Regions from separate parts of the Homo sapiens genome. Here region 2 is linked to region 1. The links come from fine-mapping of genetic effects on gene expression. Tissue or cell type: blood mononuclear cells. Region 1 holds a variant in brackets; the other region holds the start of a gene. All regions are shown on one strand. Distances are between the middles of the regions.

Region 1 (4,379 bases):
CCCTGAAAAGTTTCTAAGGCCACCTCAACCCTAGACTTGACTGGCCCATTTAGGAATAAAATAAAGTGTGCAGAAGAGTCCACTTTACCAGTGACAGTCCTTTTCTTGTGATTCTAGGGAAGCCAGATAACTCCGTGGGATTGCCTTTAAAAACATTACAGAAATCTCCATTCTGCAAATCTAAAGATAAAACTTCATTTTCTGGACAAGCTGAGCTCTCATGCAAGAGTGCAAGGTTGGTGATTATTTGCATAACAGCAACACTGTTTTACTGTTTAATGCTCCCTGGACCTAGCATCAATGTCCCCAACCCCTATAGCTGTATTTCTCACACTGAATATATTCCCCTCACTATTCCAAGAACCTATACTGGAAGTATAATGAGAGAAGAATTTGACAGGCCTCAGGAAATTTAATATAAATGCAATAGTCCTTTTCGTCACCCACCTGCATTGATTATTAGTGGTTCTCCCCCTTCTAGTCCCTCTCCTGTCTGAGCAGCCCATGCACTATTACCGGGTCAGTGTTCTGAGACCCATTTCTGCTCCATGAACTTGCAAAAGGCTGGCATTTCAGACACTGAAAGATCTGCTCAGTCCTTTAATCTCCAGTGTCATGTTCCAGCACATCAAAACCTGAACTGTCTCTGTGAAGTCGTCTCACCTTCTTTCTGGGTCTCCCTGTTCCATCCCTATCTGGAGTGTGCTGGATCAGTTGTCCACCCATGTAGACCTACAAGGCCCACTCAAGCCCACTGCTTCCATCAACCCTTTCTCAGCTGCTCCTGCTTTCCTCCCCACGAACCCTGCAATTTAGCAGTTACTTATTGTTTTATATTATTTTCTGAAGTATGGAAGTTTTTTCCCCCAATTCAAAGAGCTGGTTTCATTTGTGTTAGTTTATGTCAGAAAGAGTAGGAGCAGATTTCACCAAAGAGCAATGGCAGGGTGGTTCAGAGGTTCAGAGCTCAGGAAAGATTTGTAGGCTATCTCTCCAGCTGCTTATACAGAGGCATTGCCTAGAGGGACTTTCCATGGCTCAGAGTCAAACCCTCAATCTTGCGGCTCAGAAGCTTAATTTTATTCATTTGTTCTCTCAGCAGGTTCAGTCTCAGAAGGGCAGACTTATAGTAACCGAACTCATTTGTAAACTGAGCAACCAAGCCCATTTTTAAGATCCAGAACCACTGAAGAAACTCAAGCAGTGCTCTTGGCTCTTGGCTCTTAGCTGGTGCACTCTCCCTCTGGGGGCCTACAGGAGGTCCCAATTATCATTAGTGGTTGCTTGGTAAGTTAAAAAATCTGCATGTTTTATGCCCTTGAACTATAATCAGCTGGATGCACCTATCGCCTCATAGGTCTACATTCTGTTGGAACCACAGCAGCCAAGTGCTCAGTGCAGTCGCCCTTTCTCCTTGATGTGCTGGATGGTCATTACCATAGTCTTGTGGCTGGTTGACCAGCTGTGCTACGTCCCCACTCAACACTGCAAATGATTGATATATTCATGGAACTATTCTGACTCTTAAGGTGACTTGGCCTATTTTTCCAGGCACTGATTTTACATTTTGTCTTTCCAAGCTCAATCTTGATTCTTTTATTTTAAGATGAGGGTGGCTTCCAGACGCTTCTGAGTACTGACAACAGTGTGCTCTGCTGCCAAGGCATCCTGCCTCCCTATGGAGAACATGGAGTAGTCATTTAATACCTGCCACCCAAGGGACTGGATGGAAGAAGGGCAGGCTTCAGAGGATTTATACTCTGAAGACAGTTATGTTTGATCTGAAAATGAAAAAGTGGTGAGTATTTCTTAGGTTGTCAGTCAATCCTAACCTATTTGAGTTGAAAAGGGGACCTATAATAATGTTCCCTCCCTGGCTATTTTATTGTGCTGGGAATCTCCTCTTTATGCTCTAAGCCAAATGTTCTAGATCATGGGTCAAGGATGAAAGAGCGCCAGCCACCACCTCTTGGACTATTGCATCCGTGCTCGGCTCTCAGGGGAAGGCTTTGCAGAAATGTCTGCAGTAAAAGAAACACATGACTTTCAGCAGTTGACCTGGAAGTGGTTAGCAGTTTCTTTAAAGGAGTGAGAAAGAGAGACTTGTGGGTTCAAGCCTCAGTCCCTGGGCTATGAAGATGGAACTAATGTAACCTCTTTGGCTAGAGATCATGGCAGCAAGGTCTCTGCAGGAGAGGTAGCACTCTGCTCTCTTTTCTTGTTGTTGTTTCAAACAGGACATGACCTCCAGTAATTTAAAGGCTGTTTTGATTTCTTCTTCCTTGAGACAGCTCATCCTGCCTCTAGCTGGTTGCCTGTGAGGAGGAAGAGAGAGGAAGGAAAATAACGAAAGAGGGAAGGAAGTTCCTCCCCCACATTGAGTGACCCGGCTCCGGCCCCAGGACATTCAGGGAT[C/T]TATTTCAGCATGTTCTCCCCACCCCCACCTCCCTTTCTATTTCCCCTTACTCAGCCTCTCCAGTTCATCACAGCTGGCCACGCAATCTCCCACCTGCAGCCTGGGCCCAGCCTCTTTCCCAGACCAATCTGGGCTTGAGGCAGGAAGCAATTAAGCAGACCTATCAAGTCCCTCCTTACTTCCAGACATCCTCATGGATCTGCTTGCTAACCAAGGATGCAAGTCCCTCTGCTAATGCTTGAGCTGCTGCATTGCACTGGGGATGGCAACAAGCCCTCCTTGTCCCCCTGCCTCCTGTCTGCTGGGACAGAGCACCTGCAGCTGAATTCTCCAGCCAGAGCCTGCCCCGTGCAGTGTGTTCTGGTTTCTGAATGCACCATTCTGCTTGGGGATGACCTCAGAGAATTCTGAATCCAGGAAACTTCTTGGTCCTGCAGGCTTTAGCTCTCCTCTCAACTATCCATGGTATCCCTATTTTTTGACACGGATAATCGACATTTTCTCAGTCTTGTGTAGAGTATTATGCAAATACAGCTTCTCTAGTTCTTTTCCAACCAAAATGCTCCCTGTAAGTTCTTCCTACATTGAAATTCTGCAGCCACTACTGCCAGTGCCCTTCTGACTGGCACTTGTCTCATGGTGTCCTTGTGGATGTCCTTAAACCTGAGCCCTGATTGCCTTCCCAGATGCTACTGGCCTGCTTGCCAGGGCTTCTGCTGTAGTGGACCCTGCTTTCCCATTGCTGGGCTCTGCCCACTGCTGTGATTGCTCCTGTTGATCAGCCCTGATGGTTTGCCTGAGCTATTCCTATAGCGCTCTATTTGCCGAGACTCAGTAACAGTTGCCTGCAGGGGATGGGGGCCAGGAGAAGGATAGGGATTTGGCATCTCTTAAGCCGAAAATCTTTTTCTGTTTTTAAACACAGGGTCTTGCTCTGTTGCCCAAGCTGGACATCAGTGGTGCCATCTCGGGTTTCTGCAACCTCTGCCTCCCTGGATCAAGTGATCCTCCCACCTCAGTCTCTTGAATACCTGGGACCACAGACGTGTGCCACCATGTCTGGCTAATTTTTGTATTTTCTGTATAGATGGGGTTTTGCCATGTTGCCCAGGTTGCTGTCAAACCCCTGAGCTTAAGCATTCCACCTGCCTCGGCCTCTCAAAGTGCTGGGATTACAGGCATGAGTCACTGTGCCCAGCCAACAATTTCTTTCTTTCTTTCTGTTTTTTTGGAGATGGGTCTTGCTATGTTGCCCAGGCTGGACTTGAACTCCTGCACTTAAGCCATCCTCTTGCCTCAGCCTCTGGAGTAGCTAGGACTATGGGTACTTGCCACTGTGCCTGGCTAAGCTGACAACCTTTAAATCCTGTTCAACTCTTATTTAGTGGGGGTAGTGACAGAATGAGGGAGAGTGTTTTCTAATTTTTACTTCAGAACTTTGTCTTCTTTTGTGGAAAAGGGTGCAGATCACATTTTGACCACTCTGTAATGAGCTCTGTGTAGTGATCTGAGTTAAAGTGGGCCATGCTCTCAGATATGGTTCAGTAAGATTTTAGCATTCCTTGTAGCTCCAGACAGCTAAATGGGGCTCTGGGCCTCTCCAAGAATCCCTGGCACCTGGGCATGCCTCTCCCATCACGGAGCTCTCTGCAATATGTTGTGCCAGCGTCTGTCCGTGACTCCAGCTATTTCAGTTTTCCTGTTAAAACACCTTGCCAACCCACTAGTTGTGAGATACAACAAGCACTTTACAAAAGAACGGTAGCTGTTAGAAATGCGGAAACATTCAGACATCTAGTCTGTCCCTTGGGGATCAGTAGAGTTTTTGGTACTGATTTCTCCAGGGCTTTCTCCAGTTCAGATTAAAATAATCCTTCAAATGAGCCTTCCATTGCGCCCCTTGGGATATGTTTCTACTCTCATAAATTTTACCACAAAGACAATTTGGGGAAAAAAAGTCACT
Region 2 (4,379 bases), 44 kb before region 1:
AGGCTGACTCATTGTAGGTGCCAGAGGCTGGGAAAATCTATAGAGCCAGAGGGGAAGTAGACACGTTGGTTCTGGGGAAGGGTGGCCTGTCACTTTGGGGAAAGAAATGGAAGGTCAGAGGGACTTCTGGAAGGCAGAGGGGAGCAGGTGGGATGGTTTCCTATGCCTGGACCATCAGTTTCTGGGAGGGAAGAGGCAGGAAGTAGTGATGGATGCCCTGGACTGAAGACTGGGAGGGCCAGGAAGGAGCCTTAAAATTTGCACTTCCAGAGAGAAAGTCGGCTGGTGGGATTGACCTCGGACTGACAACTAACAGGCAGCATGCGGTGGAGTTTCAGGAAGCCAGAGGTCTGGGGTGCCAGCAGCAACAAACCCAGGCTGGCTGATGGAAGGGCCCAGCCTAGACAGGGAAGCAGAGGGGCTGCATGGAAAGGCTCAGGGCTGGAGGTGATGTGAAGTGGAATAAGCTTCAGTGGGAGCCAGGAGGTTGTATTTCCCGTTGGGGGCGGTGGTGGAGGGATGGGGGTGCCCAGAGAGGAACTATGGATTAGGCCCAGGCCGGCCACTCAGAGTGCTTGGCATCCAGGATGTGTTAAGATGGCATTGAGGCCGAGCGCGGTGGCTTAGGCCTGTAATCCCAGTACTTTGGGAGGCCAAGGCAGGCGGATCACCTTTGGTCAGGAGTTTGAGACAAGCCTGGCCAACATGGTGAAACCTCGTTTCTACTAAAAATACCAAAAACAATTAGCTGAGCATGGTGGCGCGCGTCTGTAATCCCAGCTTCTGGGGAGGCCGAGGCAGGAGAATTGCTTCAACCCGGGAGGCGGAGGTTGCAGTGAGCCGAGATCGCGCCACTGCACTCCAGCCTGGGCGACAGAGTGAGACACCATCTCAAAAAAAAAATAGCATTGAGATCAATAAGGAAGTCTAGAAACCAGGAAGCTTTTTGCAAAGAGAAAACGCCTTTTGTTATTCTCACCGATGGATATTAAGCTTTCCCTCACAGACAGGACTACAAGCTTCAGAGTGGATCTGAGATGAATGCGAATTGCTGTGTACCTTTGTAAGGGACAGAAGACCGGATTTTCAAATTTAAAACAACCATTCTGTTTCTGGAATCAGAAATCAGTTTCGAGATTTACAACTGTATTTTTTAAAAAATCTGTCTTCTTAGTGGACTCGGGGGGGACTTCACGTGGCACCCAGTACACGCCACGCCAAGCCACCGAAGCCAGAGGTGTGTGTCTGGGGCCAGAGACGTGCATTCCCTCAGCAAGGCCGGCCTCAGACGCAAACGCCAGCACCGCCACCCTGTCGCCCGCTGAGAGGATCTGGCCGCCGGGGGGAGGGGGCGGGGGGGGGGGCAGCGGGGGAACAACAAAAAAATCCCAGCATAATGATTATTCCCAGGGACCGTTGGGTTTTTTTTTCCCCAAGGCGGCCGAAAAAACAAGTGCTCCCCTTCCCCGGAAATGAGATGCACAGGGGTATTCATTCCATTCCGCGGCTGGGAAGCCCCTGCGGAAACGAGTCTGGCTGCATGTGCGGCCTCGGTCCCAGAAATCAAAAAGAGCGTCCCCTGAGCCCACAGCTTGCTCCTCCATGTGACCGGCCCCTGGGCTGGTGGCCACTGTGGACGCGCCCGGCGCCCCCTCTCCCGGCTCCCTGCGGGTTCCGCGGAGCCGCCGGCGCGCAGCCCGGCCAGGTGCACCCGGCACGGCCCCACTAACAGCGCGCGCCTCCAGCCGCCGGGCACTGGCGGCCACGCGGGCGAGATTTACGGTGGCGCTAGGCGGCGGCTTCCGAGGCCGGCCGGCGCCCAGGCTCCGATTACAGGTTCACACTGGGGGCCCGGCCGGCGGCCGCCCAGCCCCCGCCGGCGCGCCCTCGCGCGGCCCGGCTCCCCGCCTGCCCATTCTTCTCCATTCATGCGGACGCCCAGCGCCGCCGCCGCCGCCGCCAGCGCGGCCGCCGCCGTCGCCGTCGCCGGCCGCCCGGATTGGCTGGCGGCCGCGGCGCCGGCACTTTCCCACGGCCCGCGGCGCGTGCGGCTCACCGGAGGCGCTGCAGGCTCGGCCCTGGCGCGCGGCCAGGCCAATCGGGGCGCGCGGGGCGGGGAGGAGCCGCGGCCGCCGGCGGGCTTGTGTCCCGGCCCGGCCTCCCGCGCCTCCCCGCCGCCCGCGCCTCCTCCTTCCCCTGAGTGCAGGCTGGACAGAGCCCCCGCGGAGCCGACGCACCGCCGCCGGGCAGGGGCGGGCGCGGAGGGCGGGGGCGCGGTCCGCTAGAGCCCTCGGCCTCGCTCCCGCCCCTCCCCGGAGCGGCTGCCAATCAGCGGCGCGAGAAACCGGATTGGCCGGGGGGCGGCTGTTGCCCTGGAGTTGCCGCCCCGCCTCTCCGCCCCCTCGCCCGCCTTCCCCACTCCCCCGCCCTCCCCAGGGCCCTGGGAAGGGGCTCAGCGTGGGAAAGGATGGTTGAGTTTTAACCAGAGGCAAAGCGTGAGCGGGATCAGTGTGTGCGGAACGCAAGCAGCCGAGAGCGGAGAGGCGCCGCTGTAGTTAACTCCTCCCTGCCCGCCGCGCCGACCCTCCCCAGGAACCCCCAGGGAGCCAGCATGAAGCGAGCTCACCCCGAGTACAGCTCCTCGGACAGCGAGCTGGACGAGACCATCGAGGTGGAGAAGGAGAGTGCGGACGAGAATGGGTGAGCTGGCGGCGGCGGAGCGGAGCCGAGCCAGAGCGGGAGGCGAGCGCAGGCCTGCCGCGGTGACAGCGGGCTAGGACCCTTGGCGCGCCGGTGCCCTGCGCTGACCTCCGCGCGTCGCAGGCTGGCGGCAGCCTGCGGCCAGGGAACCCCTAGGTGCCTTCCAGCCCAAGTGGCAAAAAAAGTCTGAGTGCGGGGAGGGTGTGGGGGCGACCTCTCAGATCACCTCTCCTCGTTTAACGGCGATTTCAGTTTTTGTTTGTTCTTTTTCTCTTTTCAGAAACTTGAGTTCGGCTCTAGGTTCCATGTCCCCAACTACATCTTCCCAGATTTTGGCCAGAAAAAGACGGAGAGGAGTGAGTCTCTTTACACTCTCCTTTTATTTTTGTTATTGATTAACGGAAATAACCACCTTTTTTTTTGTCTTTGAAATTTACAGTCGTAATGGTAATGCCTTCCTTTGTTTTGCTTGCCTTCTGCAGATAATTGAGAAGCGCCGACGAGACCGGATCAATAACAGTTTGTCTGAGCTGAGAAGGCTGGTACCCAGTGCTTTTGAGAAGCAGGTAATGGAGCAAGTAGGTAAAGCTCTCAGCATAGCTATCTGCACCTTCTGAATCTTCCCCTCATTAATCTCATCCGCCTTGGAAAATAGCTGTGTTGCTTGTGCCTAGATGAATTCGTACACAGATACCAGCGTATTTTGTGAAGACAACTGATTTTGCTTTAGTCCATGCTTTACGATTTACAAAGCATGTATCTTTGTATATATGTTTGCATATTTTAAATTGTTCCCCAAAGGAACTTGTGCCAAATCAATCTTTTGCCATTCTCATCTTTAGGGATCTGCTAAGCTAGAAAAAGCCGAGATCCTGCAGATGACCGTGGATCACCTGAAAATGCTGCATACGGCAGGAGGGAAAGGTACATCTCCTAGACCTAGTGGGGGCTCTGAATGGTTGGCAAAGAGTGAGCAGCGGCTGAAGGCCAGGATTGGTGCAGTAGCTGCCTGATTTTTCTTTGGGGGTGGGGAGAGAACGGTGTGTGGTGTGTGCAGTTCCCTGTCAGTACATTTTCGAATGCACATAGAATCTTCTCCAGTGAATTCACCACCCCAGCTCTCTGCGGATTGAGCTAGTGCATCTTTTGGAAAAATACCTATTATTTGTGAGGTCTTCAAAAGTTGTGACAGCCCTGATTCAGATCAGGTAGCTTTCACATTTGTCCATTGCTATTTTGAGAAAAAGCATTTAAAAACAATATGTGGTCTTATTTTTGGTATACGGGATTTTAAAAAAAAGGTGCTGCCACATGCCTCTTGAGGAAAGAAATGTATTCTGGTTAAGTAAAGGAAACCTAACGGGAGACCAAGGTCTGTGTGTATGTCTCTCCAGCAGGAAAATGCTTTACTGAGGTCCAAGTGCCTAAAAGCTCCGCGATGATAACTTACATCTGTGTGTCTAATGAATTTCACTGCTCTGTGGTTTCTCTGCCCTTGATGTATTTTTTGTTGTTGTTGAGGGAAAACATTAAAGGAATGAACATAGTTTCATCTGCTGGTAGGGTATAATTCCAATTTCTGCTCTGCAGCTTCTAATTGGGCTTTGAACTTGCATTAGCAAACACATTCTGCTTATGTTGATTAATGCAAAGATTTTTGTTGATTCCAAAGACTTTCG

Evidence for each region.
Region 2: HEY1 starts here. The variant in region 1 is fine-mapped to the expression of HEY1 in blood mononuclear cells (TOPMed, PIP above 0.99).

The regions. Positions count from the first base shown.
Region 1 is chr8:79,721,445-79,725,823 of GRCh38, reverse strand. It overlaps LOC124901965 (a long non-coding RNA gene), which reads left to right and starts at 1,612. Exons shown (of 2, transcript XR_007060975.1): 1 at 1,612-1,798. LOC107986893 (a long non-coding RNA gene) reads left to right here. Exons shown (of 3, transcript XR_001745722.1): 2 at 118-235; 3 at 1,103-1,473. RefSeq lists an enhancer at 1,508-2,707. The variant C/T (reference allele first, on the strand shown) is at 2,416.
Region 2 is chr8:79,765,896-79,770,274 of GRCh38, reverse strand. It overlaps HEY1 (hes related family bHLH transcription factor with YRPW motif 1), which reads left to right and starts at 2,508. Exons shown (of 5, transcript NM_012258.4): 1 at 2,508-2,700; 2 at 2,981-3,056; 3 at 3,183-3,266; 4 at 3,543-3,624. The coding sequence starts at 2,612. It overlaps LINC01607 (long intergenic non-protein coding RNA 1607), which reads right to left and starts at 2,133. Exons shown (of 4, transcript NR_125410.1): 1 at 2,057-2,133. It overlaps LOC101927040 (a long non-coding RNA gene), which reads left to right. Exons shown (of 6, transcript NR_110954.1): 6 at 1-903. RefSeq lists silencers at 1,336-1,505, 1,606-1,965, 2,006-2,485 and an enhancer at 2,936-2,985.